2 separate regions of the Homo sapiens genome follow, and region 1 is linked to region 2. The links come from fine-mapping of genetic effects on gene expression. Tissue or cell type: monocytes. Region 2 holds a variant in brackets; the other region holds the start of a gene. All regions are shown on one strand. Distances are from middle to middle.

The links. PIP is the estimated chance that this variant, and not a neighbour inherited with it, causes the effect.
Region 1: it holds the start of PNMA8B, and the variant in region 2 is fine-mapped to the expression of PNMA8B in monocytes (TOPMed, PIP 0.97).

The regions. Positions count from the first base shown.
Region 1 is chr19:46,491,793-46,499,876 of GRCh38, reverse strand. PNMA8B (PNMA family member 8B) reads left to right here and starts at 4,010. Exons shown (of 1, transcript NM_020709.3): 1 at 4,010-8,084. The coding sequence starts at 4,412. The coding sequence ends at 6,319.
Region 2 is chr19:46,432,329-46,440,430 of GRCh38, reverse strand. No RefSeq gene overlaps it. Among named protein-coding and RNA genes, the nearest start is that of PNMA8C, 7.4 kb to the right of the region's middle. RefSeq lists a silencer at 5,853-6,053. The variant T/C (reference allele first, on the strand shown) is at 3,094.

The DNA of each region.
Region 1 (8,084 bases), 59 kb before region 2:
CAGATTAGTGGTTGCCGGGGGCTGGGGGGAGATTAGAGGGTTGGAGGGTGATGGCTAAGCAGTGTGGGATTTCTTTTTGAGGTGATGAAAATGTTTTAAAATCAATCGTGGTGTTGGTCACACAACTCTGAATGAACTAACAGCCATTGAGTTGTGCACTTTAAATGGGTGGGTTATATGGTATATGAATCTTCATTTTTACAAGAATTTCACCTGTGGTTATCCACAACGACTTAGAAAAGTGTCAGCTTCATCGGGCATGATGGCTCACGCCTGCAATCCCTGCATTTTGGGAGGCCAAGGAAGGAGGATCACTTGAGCCCAGGAGTTTGAGACCAGCCTGGGCAACATAACAAGACCCCATCTCTACAAAAAATAAAATTAGCCAGGCGTGGTGGTGTGCTGCAGTTCCAGCTACTCTGGAGGCTGAGGTGGGAGAGGTGCTTGAAGCCAGGAGTTCAAGACTGCAGTGAGCCATGGTCATGCCACTGCACTCTAGCCTGGGAGACAGCAAGACTCTGACTCTAAAATACACACACACACACACACACACACACACACAAAGTGCAAGCTTCCTGTTTCTCTTTTTGTTGTGTTTTCCAATCTTGCAGTTATAAATAACAGTTGTGCTGAGTGTATTCACACACACACACACTCTCTCTCTCTCTCTCTCTCCCCCTAATTAATTCTTGCAAACAAATTCCCAATGGCCCTGTGTGGCTGCTGAGCCCTTGAAATACGGCTACTCCAAAGGGACTCATTATGAAAAGAGAGTGTCTGATAGCTCATAAATAATTGTTTTACATTGACAACTTGTGCAAATGACAACACTTTGTATATTTCGGGATAAATAATATATATTCTTTATTTTCTTTTTCTTTTTCCTTTTCCTTTTTTTTTTTTTTTTTTTTTTTTTTTTTTTTTTTTTTTTTGAGACAGGGTCATTCTCTTGCCCAAGCTGGAGTGCAGTGTAGCATGATCATCTCTCACTTCAGCCTTGATCTCCTGGGCTGAAGCAATCCTCCTACCTCAGCTTCCTGAGTATCAGGGACTACAGATGTGTGTCACTAAGCCTGGCTAACTTTTGTATTTTTTGTAGAGACGAGGTTTTGCCATGTTGGCCAGGCCGGTCTCAAACTCCTGGGCTCAAGTGATCTGCCTGCCTCGGCCTCCCAAAGTGCTGGGATTACAGGCGTGAGCCACTGCGCCTGGCCAAAATCTATTCTTAAAATTCATTTTTCTTCCCTCTTTTCTATTTATTGAAGGTGGCCCCCTAGGAAATTTTGTATTTTTTGTAGAGATAGGTTTTCACCATGTTGCCCGGGCTGGTCTCGAACTCCTAACCTCAAGTGATCTGCCCGCCTCAGCCTCTGAAAGTGCTGGGATTACAGGATTACATGGTGAGTCACCATATTTCTTCTTTTTTTAGATCAATAGATGCAGAAAAAGCAGCTCGTTTTTTGTTTTGTTTTGGTTTGGTTTGGTTTGGTTTGGTTTGGTTTTTTTGAGACAGCGTCTTGCTCTGTCTCCCAGGCTGGAGTGCAGTGGCGCAATCTCGGCTCAATGCAACAACCTCTGCCTCCCAGGTTCATGTGATTCTCCTGCCTCAGCCTCCAAGTAGCTGGGATTACAGGCGTGCGCTACCATGCCCAGCCTAGATTGGAGATTCAAATGTCAAAAATGACACTTTGTAATCCCAGCACTTTGGGAGGCTGAGGTGGGTGGACCACCTGAGGTCAGTGTTGGCTGGCTGCAACTAGGAGTTTTAACATTGCACGTGCGGTTCGAATTTGGGGCTGGCATTCTATTCCTGCTGGACAACGCTGCTCTGGAGAAAAGAGTCACATCACATCCATCTGTGGATCAGGAAGATCAGAGGAGGAAAAAGTGGGGGAAAATAGGAGTGAGTAAGCGGTTTGCCCAGTTGCTGTGGTAACCTTGCAGTTAAACTCTCCTTAAACATAAAAAAATCCAAACACAAAAGTAAGGGGTTGGGCCTGGTGGCAAAAACAAAAAACTCGAGGTGTTTTGGTTTCCTATTTATTTGTTTATTAACAGATGCTTTGGGCTGAGCACGGTGGCTCGTGCCTGTAATCCCAGCACTTTGGGAGGCCGACGCCGGCAGATCACCCGAGGTCAGGAGTTCCAGACCAGCCTGGCCAACATGGTGAAAATCCATCTACTAAAAATACAAAACTAGGCCGGGCACGGTGGCTCACACCTGTAATCCCAGCACTTTGGGAGGCCGAGGCGGGCGGATCACGAGGTTGGGAGTTTGAGACAAGGTTGCCCAACATAGTGAAACCCCGTCTCTACTAAAAATACAAAAAATTAGCTGGGCGTGGTGGCGGGCACCTGTAATCTCAGCTACTTGGGAGGCTGAGGCTGGAGAATGGTTTGAAGCCGGGAGGCGGAGGTTGCAGTGAACCAAGATCACGCCACTGCCCTCCAGCCTGAGTGACAGTGCGAGACTCTCTCTCAAACAAACAAACAAACAAAAAACTAGTCAGGCATGGTGGTGCATGCCTGTAGTCCCAGTTACTCGGGAGGCTGAGGCAGGAGAATGGCTTTAACCCGGGTGGTGGAGGTTGCAGTGAGCCGAGATTGCTCCATTGCACTCCAGCCTGGGCGACAGAGCAAGACTCCATCTCAAAAACAAACCAACAAAACAGATGCTTTTATAATGGTAAGTTCTCAACAAATACTTCTCTTAGCCATCTTTCATGGAGCACCAGCTGTGGGCCAGCTGCTCTTCTAAATGCTTTCCTGGATTATTCCCTTTAATCCTCATGAGAACCCTTTGAGGCCAGGCATGGTGGCTCACCATGTAATCCTGTAATCCCAGCACTTTCAGAGGCTGAGGCGGGCAGATCACTTGAGGTTAGGAGTTTGAGACCAGCCTGGGTAACATGGTAAAAACCCATCTCTACAAAAAATACAAAAACTTGCCAGACGTGATGGTGTATGCCTATAATCCCAGCTACTTGGGAGGCCTGTCATCCTTGCTACTCAGGAGGCTGAGGCAGGAGAACCGCTTGAACATGGGAGGCGGAAGTTGCAGTGAACCAAGATTGTGCCATTGCACTCCAGCCTGAGTGACAGAGCAAGACTCCATCTCCAAAACAAACAACAACAAAAAAACAAAACCCTTTGAGGTAGGGATGATGGTTGAGATATAAACCTACCAGCTGGTCTACAGAGCCAGATTCATATAGAGTAGGGGACAGCCTCATGGCCAACAAGGGACAGAGAAGCAAATGCATGTTTACAGTAGCTATGACTGACGTTCACACGCCCCAGTCTGCTGTCCCAGTCAAGGGAAATGCTTTCTTGCAAAATTCATGCCTGGTCTCACAATCATACATATGCTCAAAGCGTGTGCAAAACCACAGGATTTATTGTGCATGCATAGTTCAGAATACAGGAACGTGTATGGGAGTGAGGGCCGGTCCCATCGAGTGGGGCCTGTACCCTGCAAGTGAGGCCCATATACCCTGAATGGTGTCTTGCTCACAGGTGGTGCCTGGGCCCCCCTATTTGATACTGAGACCCATATACTGTGAATGAGGCCAGTATCCCGAGTAAGTCCTGGTCCTACGCTGCAAGGCCAGTGCCCTTTGATTTAGGCCTATATAATCCTGAATTCCACCTGGCCCCTGGAAGGGGGAATTGTAACCCCCAGTGATGCCGGTACCCTCTGGAAGGAGGCCTCTATCCCCTGAATGAGGTCGGGTATCCTTGAGTGATTTCTGGCCCTCTGTGGTTTCGGCCTTGTTTTTTGCTGGTTAATGAAAGTGGTGCTTCCAGGCCCCAAGTCCTTGTCATCGGGACCTTTAAGAAAAGCGTCTCAGGCCACAGCGACGCAGACCCCAGCTCAAGGCTGCACCGTTGCCATGGAGACGGTTGGGCGGGGGACAGGGGAGGGTGTGCGGCTCCCTCTGCGCAGGCGCACGCGCGAGCAGCCGCGTCGCAGCGGAACTGCTGAGATTCAGGCCCAGGGTGCGCGCTCAGACGCGGCGCGAGCGCCAGGCAAGCTGCGGCTGCTACCTCCCACGCCTCTCCAGGTGCACTCGGCGCCGCCCCCCTGCACCTGGCTGCGGTGCCGAGTCACTCAGGCCTGTGTCAGGGAGAGAGGGAGGGAGCTGTCCTGGAAAGCAGACACGTAAGCCCCCCGCGGATCCTCAGACAGCTCTGGAGAGGGGTCCCGGGGGAAGGTCACTGCGTCCAGCCGGCCAGCAGGCAGCTAGAGCCCCCGAGCCCCGAGCCCCACTCCAGCCTTGCCACATTCACCGGAACCGGGACTCTAAGCCCTGCAAGTGGCTTTCTAGGGTTGCATTGACACCGTGCGCTGCAGCCCACCCCTATCTCGGGCTCCCTGCTGCCCCAAGATCAGCGCCAAGGGGGCTGCACCATGGCCATGAGCCTTTTGCAGGACTGGTGCCGGAGCCTGGACGTGGACGCGCACAGGGCCCTGCTGGTCACCGGCATCCCGGAGGGCCTGGAGCAGGCAGACGTCGAAGCCGTCCTGCAGCCGACCCTCCTGCCCCTGGGCACGTTCAGGTTGCGACACATGAAGGCTTTGATGAACGAGAAGGCCCAGGCCGCCCTGGTGGAGTTTGTGGAGGACGTCAATCACGCTGCCATTCCCAGGGAGATCCCAGGCAAGGATGGGGTCTGGAGGGTTCTGTGGAAGGACCGTGCGCAGGACACGAGGGTCCTGAGGCAGATGAGACGCCTGCTGCTGGATGACGGGCCCACGCAGGCCGCGGAGGCTGGGACCCCCGGGGAGGCACCCACCCCTCCCGCTTCGGAGACGCAGGCCCAGGATTCTGGGGAGGTAACAGGGCAGGCTGGCTCGCTTCTTGGGGCAGCCAGGAACCCAAGGAGGGGCCGTCGGGGTCGCAGAAACAGAACCAGACGCAACAGGTTGACCCAGAAGGGCAAGAAGAGAAGCCGAGGAGGACGGCCGTCTGCTCCCGCGAGGAGTGAGGCCGAGGACTCTTCCGACGAGAGCCTGGGCATCGTGATCGAGGAGATCGACCAGGGCGACCTGAGCGGAGAAGAGGACCAGAGCGCGCTGTACGCCACGCTGCAGGCCGCTGCCAGGGAGCTGGTTAGGCAGTGGGCGCCCTGCAACTCCGAGGGGGAAGAAGACGGTCCCCGCGAGTTCTTGGCTCTGGTCACCGTCACCGACAAATCGAAGAAAGAAGAGGCAGAGAAGGAGCCAGCTGGGGCCGAATCCATCCGCTTGAACACCAAAGAAGACAAAAATGGTGTCCCCGACTTAGTGGCCCTGCTGGCTGTGAGAGACACCCCGGACGAGGAGCCGGTGGACAGCGACACTTCGGAGAGCGACTCGCAGGAAAGTGGGGACCAAGAAACAGAGGAGTTGGATAATCCTGAGTTCGTGGCCATTGTGGCCTATACCGACCCGTCGGACCCCTGGGCCCGGGAGGAGATGTTGAAAATCGCTTCTGTTATCGAGTCGCTGGGCTGGAGCGACGAGAAAGACAAGCGAGACCCCCTCCGACAGGTCTTGTCCGTCATGTCCAAGGACACTAACGGGACCCGCGTGAAGGTGGAAGAGGCGGGCCGCGAGGTGGACGCCGTGGTCCTGCGCAAGGCCGGGGATGACGGGGACCTCCGGGAGTGCATTTCCACCTTGGCGCAGCCGGATCTCCCTCCCCAGGCGAAGAAGGCTGGGCGTGGCCTCTTCGGGGGCTGGAGCGAGCACCGTGAGGACGAAGGGGGTCTTCTGGAGCTGGTGGCGCTCCTGGCTGCCCAGGACATGGCGGAGGTGATGAAGGAGGAAAAAGAAAACGCCTGGGAAGGCGGGAAGTACAAATACCCCAAAGGCAAACTGGGGGAGGTATTGGCGCTCCTGGCCGCCCGGGAGAACATGGGGTCCAACGAGGGGTCGGAGGAGGCTTCGGACGAACAGTCCGAGGAGGAGTCGGAGGACACCGAGAGCGAGGCGTCGGAGCCGGAGGACAGGGCATCCAGGAAGCCCCGGGCCAAGAGGGCGCGCACGGCCCCCAGGGGCCTGACTCCGGCCGGCGCGCCTCCCACCGCTTCCGGGGCCCGCAAAACCCGCGCGGGCGGCCGAGGCCGAGGCCGGGGCGTCACTCCCGAGAAGAAAGCCGGGAGCCGGGGCTCGGCCCAGGACGACGCCGCAGGAAGCAGGAAGAAGAAGGGGAGCGCGGGCGCCGGGGCCCATGCCAGGGCAGGCGAGGCCAAGGGCCAGGCGCCCACTGGATCCAAGGCCGCGCGCGGGAAGAAGGCCCGTCGGGGCCGGAGGCTGCCCCCTAAATGCCGCTAGTGGCCCCCCAAGAAGCCGCCCAGGCTGCGAGCAGGCCCCGCAGGGCACCCGCCCGCCTGTGGCCCCCGCCCTCCCCTCCCCTCTTCCTGTCCTCCGCAGACGCAATCTCCTCGCTTCACAGCGCGCCCGGGCCGCGTTTTGCCAGCGTCACGTTCCCCTCTCGGGCCCTCGCAGGCCGGGGGCGCCAGCGATCCCGACGGAGGAAGCCCGGATGGGAGGAGGAAAGAGAAGTGGGCGCCCGAGGCAGCAGCGCAGGGCCGAGATGGGGACGCGCCAAGTGGACCAGGATTGGGGGCCCGGGTTGCCCCCGGAGGGGGTGTGTGTGTGGACGCCGGGCACCTGCAGAGGCGAGCAGGGCTCTTCGTGGCGCTCTCGGGGCCTGCGCCTGGCAGGTGCTGTAGGCCGCTGTCGCCCCTACCCCAGTCTGACTGGGCCCTGGGTCTGTGGTGGAGGCTCAGTCACCAGCCGCGCAGCGCGTGTCAGGGCGCAACTCTCAGCCAGGGGAGGCCCCAGCTCCCAGCCAGGGGAAGAGATGATTCCAGAAAGGAAAGTCTGAGAGATAGAAGGCGGTTGGGAAGGGGAGGAGGAGGAAAGGGGAGAGGAACGGTGGGAGAAGGGAAAGAGGAGGAGGAGGGGGAGGGGGGAGCAGAGGGAAGACACATGCCAGCCCTGCCTACTGGGGCGCCCCTGATAACAAAGGAACCAGCCCCAGGCCAAGGCCACCTGCCCCTGACCACAAGTTGAATTTGTCACTCAGACTGCAGTGTTTCCCAACATTCTAATTATTTGCAGAGGTGTTCAATTTGGGGTAATTCACTTAAAATCCAGTTTTGGTTCTTCTGGGCTGAGTGGGCCCTGGCCCCTCCCATAGGCTGTGGCTCCCCTGGGTGCCCCCTCTCCAGTGGAGCTGACCCACCGCTCAGCGCTGGCCTTGCAGCCCTTACTAAAAGACTTGAAAGTCCCTGGGTTCACCCCCTGAGTGAATTAAAGGCCAGAGGGGCCCCGAAGGGCACTGTGAGGGACAGAGGCTCACCTGGGCAGTGCAGAAGCCGGCCGCGTGTCCCTCCTTACAGGGGATGAAATGACCTGGGGAGGAAACCCCAGCCCTGCCCTGGAGGTTCCAGAGTAGGCGGGCCGGTGCTGTGAGGCTTCACAACCTGCTGTCCCAAGCACGCTTGAGTTGTATGTGAGTCTGTGCCGTGCCGTGCCGTATGCTTCAGCTCCTGCAACCCCGGCTGAGCTCGATTTTTACCTAAATATCAGTCTCCACGGGACCCCACCTTCATTCATGCCTTCTTGTCCCTGGGGCAATGTGTGTGCTTCCTCGTCCCAATTTCCATTCCCTGGCAGTGAGGAGCCCATCGTGCCAGGGGGCCCTGCCCCACTTGTCCCTGGGAAGGAATAGGAGGGTTTGGGTGTGACCTCACAGTCCAGACCAGACTGTCCCAGTCCTATGTCAGGGACACCCAGATGTAGAAGCTGACTGAGACCTGCTGCAGGGCGTGGGTGCTCCCCTCTGCTTGGAGGCTGTCCCTGGACAGTGACCCACCCACTGAGGACCAGGCTGGGTGTACCTTGAGCTGGGCACAGCAGCCTGTGGTGTTGCCTGTGGGTGGGGAGGGCCCCAGGTGTGCTTCTCCCGTAGCAGTCCTAGGCTTCTCTCCCTGTGCCCTGTGTCACCTGGATCCTCCAGTAAAGTGAAATTCAGCACTGTACTCTCTCTGTGCTCTGGGCAGTGGGGCAGGCGGGGTGTGGGAGCGTGGGC
Region 2 (8,102 bases):
TGGGTGTTCCATCTCACCCAGAGAAAAGTCCCAAGTCCCCACCAGGAGCTTTGAGGTCTTGTAAGATCTGGCTGTCACCTCCTCTCTTGCGCGGCCTGCTTTTTCTTGGGCTTTCTTCTCAACACTCCCTTGCTCCCTCTGCTGCCAGGCACCACGGGTTTCTGCTGTTCTTCAAGTACACCAGGCAGGCTCCAGCCTCAGGGCCTTTGCACTGACTTTTTTTTTTTCTTTTTTTTTTGAGAAGAAGTCTCGCTCTGTCACCCAGGCTGGAGTGCAGTGGCGGGATCTCGGCTCACTGCAAGCTCCGCCTCCCAGGTTCAAGCCATTCTCCTGCCTCAGCCTCCCGAGTAGCTGGGACTACAAGCGCCCGCCACCACGCCCGGCTAATTTTTTGTATTTTAGTAGAGACAGGATTTCACCATGTTGCCCAGCTAGTCTTGAACTCCTGAGCTCAGGCAATCCACCCGCCTTGGCCTCCCAAAGTGCTGGGATTACAGGCATGAGCCACCATACCCAGCTGGGAATTTACATTTTAACAGTGGAATTTCATATCATTGAAAACGAGATGGACTTTTCTCCATAAAACTAAGACACTCAATAGCCATCTGGAAAGGTATAAAGTTAGAGGTAGATTGGAGATTTATTATTTATTTATTTTTTTTTTTTTTAATTTTTTTTGAGAGAGAGTCTTACTCTGTCACTTAGGCTGGAGTGCAGTGGCATCATCTCGGCTCACTGCAACCTCCACCTCCTGGGTGGAGGCGATTCTCCTGCCTCAGCCTCCCAAGTAGCTGGGATTACAGGCGTGCGCCACCATCCTCAGCCTAGATTGCAGATTTAAATGTCAAAAACGACACCTCAGGCAGGGCGTGGTGGCTCACGCCTGTAATCCCAGCACTTTGAGAGGCCGAGGCAAGTGTATCACCTGAGGTCAGGAGTTCGTGACCAGCCTGGGCAACATGTTGAGACCCCCATCTCTACTAAAAATACAAAAATTAGCTGGGTGTGGTGGTGTGCTCCTGTAATCCCAGCTACTTGGGAGGCTGAGGCAGGAGAATGGCTTGAACCCGGGAGGCAGAGATTGCAGTGAGCCAGGATGACGCCACTGCACTCCAGCCTGGGTGACAGAGAGAGACCCTGTCTCAAAAAGAAAAAAAAGTTCATAACTCATGTAAGTTATGAGTGGCTAAATTCCTGGCATTACATTCTATTTGTATTAATAGCTATTGGGCTCACTGTTAACACAAGGTTTGGAACAGAGCCAGAGTTAAATGTATAAATATATACATTTGCTGTGTGAAGGATTAATTGTTCCTTTTCAACTCTCAGAAACCTACATCCTCCTACTCCAACATCATTCCTGACTGGCAAACTCCTATAACGCCCTCAGTTACCTCATCAAACCTCCCCACCTTGGGTGTTCCATCTCACCCAGAGAAAAGTCCCAAGTCCCCACCAGGAGCTTTGAGGTCTTGTAAGATCTGGCTGTCACCTCCTCTCTTGCGCGGCCTGCTTTTTCTTGGGCTTTCTTCTCAACACTCCCTTGCTCCCTCTGCTGCCAGGCACCACGGGTTTCTGCTGTTCTTCAAGTACACCAGGCAGGCTCCAGCCTCAGGGCCTTTGCACTGACTTTTTTTTTTTCTTTTTTTTTTGAGAAGAAGTCTCGCTCTGTCACCCAGGCTGGAGTGCAGTGGCGGGATCTCGGCTCACTGCAAGCTCCGCCTCCCAGGTTCAAGCCATTCTCCTGCCTCAGCCTCCCGAGTAGCTGGGACTACAAGCGCCCGCCACCACGCCCGGCTAATTTTTTGTATTTTAGTAGAGACAGGATTTCACCATGTTGCCCAGCTAGTCTTGAACTCCTGAGCTCAGGCAATCCACCCGCCTTGGCCTCCCAAAGTGCTGGGATTACAGGCGTGAGCCGCCGTGCCCGGCCGCACTGACTGTTCCTTCTGCTTGGAACACAGTTCCCTCACATGTTCACAAGGTGGCTCTCTCACCTCCTTCAGGTCTTTGCTCCAAATGTCACCTCCATGAAACCTTTACTTGGCACACTGTAAATTATAACATCCTCTCCCAATACACACTCTCTATGCCTGTCTCTCTCGCTCTGTCTCTCTCTTTTTTTTTTTTTTTTTTTGAGACAGAGTCTCGCTCTGTTGCCCAGGCTGGAGTGCAGTGGCGCGATCTCGGCTCACTGCAAGCTCCGCCTCCCGGGTTCACGCCATTCTCCTGCCTCAGCCTCCCGAGTAGCTGGGACTTCAGGCGCCCGCCACCATGCCCGGCTAATTTTTTGTATTTTTAGTGGAGACGGGGTTTCACTGTGTTAGCCAGGATGGTCTCCATCTCTTGATCTCGTGATCCGCCCACCTCGGCCTCTCAAAGTGCTGGGATTACAGGCGTGAGCCACCATGCCCGGCCCTCTGTCTGTCTTTTTAATTTAATTTTTTCTTTTGAGATGGGATCTCACTCTGTCTCCCAGGCTGGAGTGCAGTGGTATCATCATAGCTCACTGCAGCCTGGGGTCTCACTTTGTTGCCCAGGCTGGTCTCAAACTCCTGGGCTCAAGTAGTCCTCCTGCCTTGGCCTCCTAAAGTGGCGGGATTACAGGCGTGAGTCCTGGCCCTTCTCTGTCTTTCCTGCTTTATTTTTCCCCGTAACCAATCCTGATCACCACATGACATATTATATATCTTATTTATTTGTCCCTGCTCTGTCGGCCCAATACAGTGTCAGCTTTTGGAAATCAGGGGATTTTGTCCATCTCATTCATTGCTCTATCCCCAGAACCTAGACTCTAACCAACAAGTAACTTAGCCAAGGCCGGGCGCGGTGGGTCACGCCTGCAATCCCAGCACTTTGGGAGGCTGAGGCAAGTGGATCACTTGAGGTCAGGAGTTCAAGACCAGCCTGGCCAACATAGTGAAACCTTGACTCTACTAAAAATACGAAGAAAATAGCCAGGCGTGGTGGCTCACGCCTGTAATACCATCTACTCAGGAGACTGAGGCAGGAGAATCGCTTGAACCTGGGAAGCGGAGGTTGCATTGAGCCGAGATCACACCACTGCCCTCCAGCCTGGGCAATAAAGTGAGA[T/C]TCCATCTCAAAAATAAAATAATAATAATAAATATATATATATAGATTATTTAAAAAAAAAAAAAAACTCCATCGTCCAGGCGCGGTGGCTCACGCCTGTGATCCCAGCACTTTGGGAGGCTGAGGCAGGCAGATCAAGAGGTCAGGAGATCGAGACCACCTTGGCTAACATGGTGAAACCCCGTCTCTACTAAAAATACAAAAAATTAGCCAGGCGTGGTGGCAGGCGCCTGTAGTCCCAGCTACTTGGGAGGCTGAGGCAGGAGAATGGCATGAACCTGAGAGGCGGAGCTTGCAGTGAGCTGAGATCGGCCACTGCACTGTAGCCTGGGTGACAGAATGAGACTGCATCTCAAAAAAAAAAAAAGCCACCAACAAAAAACAAGTAACTAAGCTATTACATGTGGTGTGATAATATGCTAATTTCCTTTATCTGTAAAGCTTTTTTACTCTTCAGCAAAAAAGGAAACCCCATTTTTTAATAAAAATGGGTAAAAGATACAAACAGAAAATTCATGGAAAAAAATTAAGCTAAATCAAATTGTAAAAATCTCGGCCAGGCGTGGTAGCTCATGCCTGTAATCCCAGCACTTTGGGAGGTCGAGGTGGGCAGATCACCTAAGCTCAGGAGTTCGAGATCAGCCTGGCCAACATGGAGAAACCCCCCTCTCTACCAAAAATACAAAAATTAGCTGGGCGTAATGGTGGGGACCTGTAATTCCAGCTACTCGGGAGGCTGAGGCAGGAGAATCACTTGAACCTGGGAGGCGGATGTTGCAGTGAGCTGAGATCCCGCCATTGCACTCCAGCCTGGGTGACAGAGCGAGGCTCCGTCTCAAAAAAAAAAAAAAAAAAAAAAAAAAAAAAAAGGCCAGGCGCGGTGGCTCACGCCTGTAATCCCAGCACTTTGGGAGGCTGAGGCGGGCGGATCACGAGGTTAGGAGATCGAGACCGTCCTGGCTAACGTGGTGAAACCCCGTCTCTACTAAAAAAAATACAAAAAATTAGCCAGGCGTGGTGGCGGGCACCTGTAGTCCCCGCTACTCGGGAGGCTGAGGCAGGAGAATGGAGTGAACCCGGGAGGCGGAAGTTGCAGTGAGCCAAGATCGCGCCACTGCACTCCAGGCTGGGCCACAGAGCGAGAGTTCGTCCCCCCAAAAAAAAAAAACAAAACTCATTTGGCCAGGCATAATGGCTCATACCTGTAATCCCAGCACTTTGGGAGACTGAGCCAGGAGGATTGCTTGAGCTCAGGAGTTTGAGACCAGCCTGGGCAACATAGTGAGACTCTGTCTCTACAAAAAAAAAAAAAAAAAAAAATTAAGTTAGCTAGGTGTGGTGGCATGCGCCTATAGTCTCGGTTACTCAGGAGGCTGAGGTGGGAAGATTGCTTGAGCCTGGGAGGTTGAGGCTGCAGTGAGCCATGATTGCGCCACTGCATTCCGGCCTGGGCAACAGAGCAAGACCCTATCTCAAAAAAAAAAAATCTCACTAGCTGTGTGGCCCCAGGTAAGTGATTTAACCTCTCTGGTCCTCAGTTTTCCTGACTATAAGATACAGGAACTATTCAATAAATACTTGTTGAATGAATAAATGATTGAATCAATAAAACATCTAACTCATGGACTGTTGTAAAAATTAGATGACTTAGTACACATAGAAGGCTTAGAATATTTTAGTATGCCCTATGCAAAAGTTAGCAGTTATTACTTTTTAAAATAGTATTATTTGTGGTTATTATATGCATCCATCAAGATTTCTCTCAAATGTCACCTCCTGCGGGAAGCCTTCCCAGATGAGACCAGACAGATGAATTCCTTTATGGAGAATTAATCAGAGACGTTGAAGAGTGAATTAATAAAAAGGTTACTGATACAGTAATTATGTCAGTCAGGTATCTCAGGGCCGCCAAAGGACTTTATGCGGTTCTCTCTTTAAACTCTAGCAAAACATGTTCCAGGAAAACTAAGCCCACTTGATATATTCTGTATTCTACACCCCACACCAGGATCGGAACACATCGTAGTAATTATAGGGCTTCTCTCCCTGCCTGTAAACAGACTGAGCCAGCCTGTCGTAACCACTGGACTGAGCTCCTCAAAGCAGAGCCTGTCTCCCTCACTCAAGTATGCCCAGCACGTTACCCAAGCCTAGAACAAGGACACTTCTCAGTAAATCCTGGTGGATCAAATAAATGAACCATTCTCTTCCCTTGCTTCTCAATTGGGAACATGCATAAGCCCAGGGATATGCAATGGCGTGTCAAGGATTCATAAACTCGTGGCAAATATTTTGGATCAACAATTTTACTTCATCTTTGGAAGGAAAACTCATCTTTGTATTAAAATGGTCATGTCATGGAGTCGAATGTGAATTTTTTTTTTTTTTTTTTTTTTGAGACAGAGTCTCACTCTGTCACCCAGGCTGGAGTGCAGTGGCGCAATCTTGGCTCACTGCAATCTCCACCTGCCAGGTTCAAGTGATTCTCCTGCCTCAGTCTCCCAAGTAGCTGGGATTACTGGTGTGTGCCAACACACCCGGCTAATTTTTGTATTTTTACCAGAGATGGGGTTTTGTCATGTTGGCCAGGCTGGTCTCGAACTCCTGACCTCAGGTAATCCACCCGCCTCAGCCTCCCAAAGTGCTGGGATTACAGGTGTGAGTCACCACGCCCGGCTCGAATGCAAAATTTTTTATGACAAAATTAGACTTAAAAGAAATCTCTGTGGAAGAGCTGGTTCCTAAAACCCCTAAATGAGAGGGCACACTTCCCTTGTTTTCTCTCTACTGGAAAACCTGAAAAGTAGTATGTTAGTGCAACTGATGTTTATAAAGGAAGAGTCATGGTTGTTCAGGATTGGTCCGTGTTAAGCAGAAGGAGGTCTGCTATGAGCCACGTGGGATAAGAAACATTATGTGATTGGATCTTAGACAATTGGGGGTGAATCTGGGGAGGTGAGGACCCAGAAAGGGATGGTGGTCAAAACTAAAATAAGATAAAGATATCCATCTCACCCCAGTTAAAATAGCTTATATCTGGCCAGATGCAATTGCTCACGCCTGTAATCCCAGCACTTTGGGAGGCTGAGGCGGGCAGATCACCTGGGGTCGGGAGTTCACGACCAGCCTGACCAACATGGAGAAACGCTGTCTCTACCAAAAATACAAAAAATTAGCCAGGCGTGGTGGAGCATGCCTGTAATCCCAGCTACTCATGAGGCTGAGGCAGGAGAATTGCTTGAACCTGAGAGGCGGAGGTTGCAGTGAGCCGAGATTGCACCATTGCACTCCAGCCTGGGCAACAAGAGTGAAACTCCGTCTCAAAAAAAAAAAAAAAAGCTTATATCCAAAAGACAGCAAAGAACAAATGCTGGTGGAGAAAAGGGAACCCTCATACTCTGTTGGTGGGAATGTAAATTGGAGGTTCCTCAAAACTAAAAATTAAGCTAAAAATTGATCCTGCCATCCCACTGCTGGGTATATACCCAAAAGAAAGGAAATCAGTAGATTAAGGAGATCTCTGCACTCCCATATTTTTTGCAGCACTGTCCACGACAGTGAAGATTTGGAAACAACCTGAGTGTCCATCAACAGAAGAATGGATACAGAAAATGTGGTGCTTATACACAATGGAGTACTATTCAGCCATGAAAAAGAATGAGATCCTGCCATTTGCAAAAACGTGGATGGAACTGGAGGTCATTATGTTAAGTGAAATAAGCCAGGCACAGAAAGACAAACGGCATGTTCTCATTTATTTGTGGGAATTAAAATAATCAAAACAATTGAACGAGGACAGGCATGTTGGCTCACGCCTGTAATCCCAGCACTCTGGGAGGCCGAGGCGGGTGGATCACTTGAGGTCAGGAGTTCCAGACCAGCCTGGCTGACATGGTGAAACCCCATCTCTACTAATACAAAAATTAGCCAGGCGTGGTGGCGCGTGCCTGTAATCTCAGCTGCTAGGGAGGCTGAGGCATGAGAATCACTTGAACCTGGGAGGCAGAGGTTGCAGTGAGCCAAGATCGCACCATTACACTCCAGCCTGGGCGACAGAGTGAGACTCCATCTCGAAACAAAACAAAACAAAAAAAGCAGTTTTTTTTTTTTTTTTAACATATAGACAGAAGGTTACCAGAGGCTGGGAAGGGTCGTCGGCGGGATGGATGGGGGAGGTGGGGATGGTTAATGGGTACAATACTCAACACAAATAGAAAGAATGAATAAGACATACTATTTGATAGCACAACAGGATGACTATTGTTAATAATAATAGTACATTTCAAAATAGCTAAATGAATGTAATTGGATTGTTTGTCACACAAAGGATAAGTTCTTAAGGGGATGGCGACTTCATTCTCCACAATGTGATTATTTCTCATTGCATGCCTGTATCAAATATCTTGTGAACCCCATACATATATACAGCTACCATGTACCCGCACAATTAAAAATTAAAAATTTAAAAATAAACTATATTCGTGATGGCAAAATAATAATAATAATATAGGGATGGCGAGATCTTGTTTAAAAGTTACTGAGGCTGGGCGTGGTGGCTCAGGCCTGTAATCCCAACACTTTGGGAGGCCGAGGTGGGAGAATCACTTGAACTCAGGAGTTTGATACCAGCCTGGGCAACATAGAGAGACCCTTATCTCCAAAAAAAAAAAAAAAAAAAAAAAATTACTAACCAGGGAGCGCTAGGGTTGCTGGAGGAGGGGTGTATCAAAGTTTTTTTTTCTGTGACTAGTATTGGGTTTTAAGTCTCTGTAGGCCAGTCTGCTGGGCAATTTAGAAACTGAACCGGGACAGAGAGGACAAATTGGAACCTACAAGAACAATCTAGGCCAGGTGCGGTGGCTCACTCCTGCAATCCCAGCATTTTTGGAGATTGAGGCAGGCGGATCATTTGAAGTCAGGAGTTCGAGACCAGCCTGGCCAACATGGTGAAACCCCATCTCTATGAAAATACAAAAATTAGCTGGGCATGATGGCGGGTGCCTGTAATC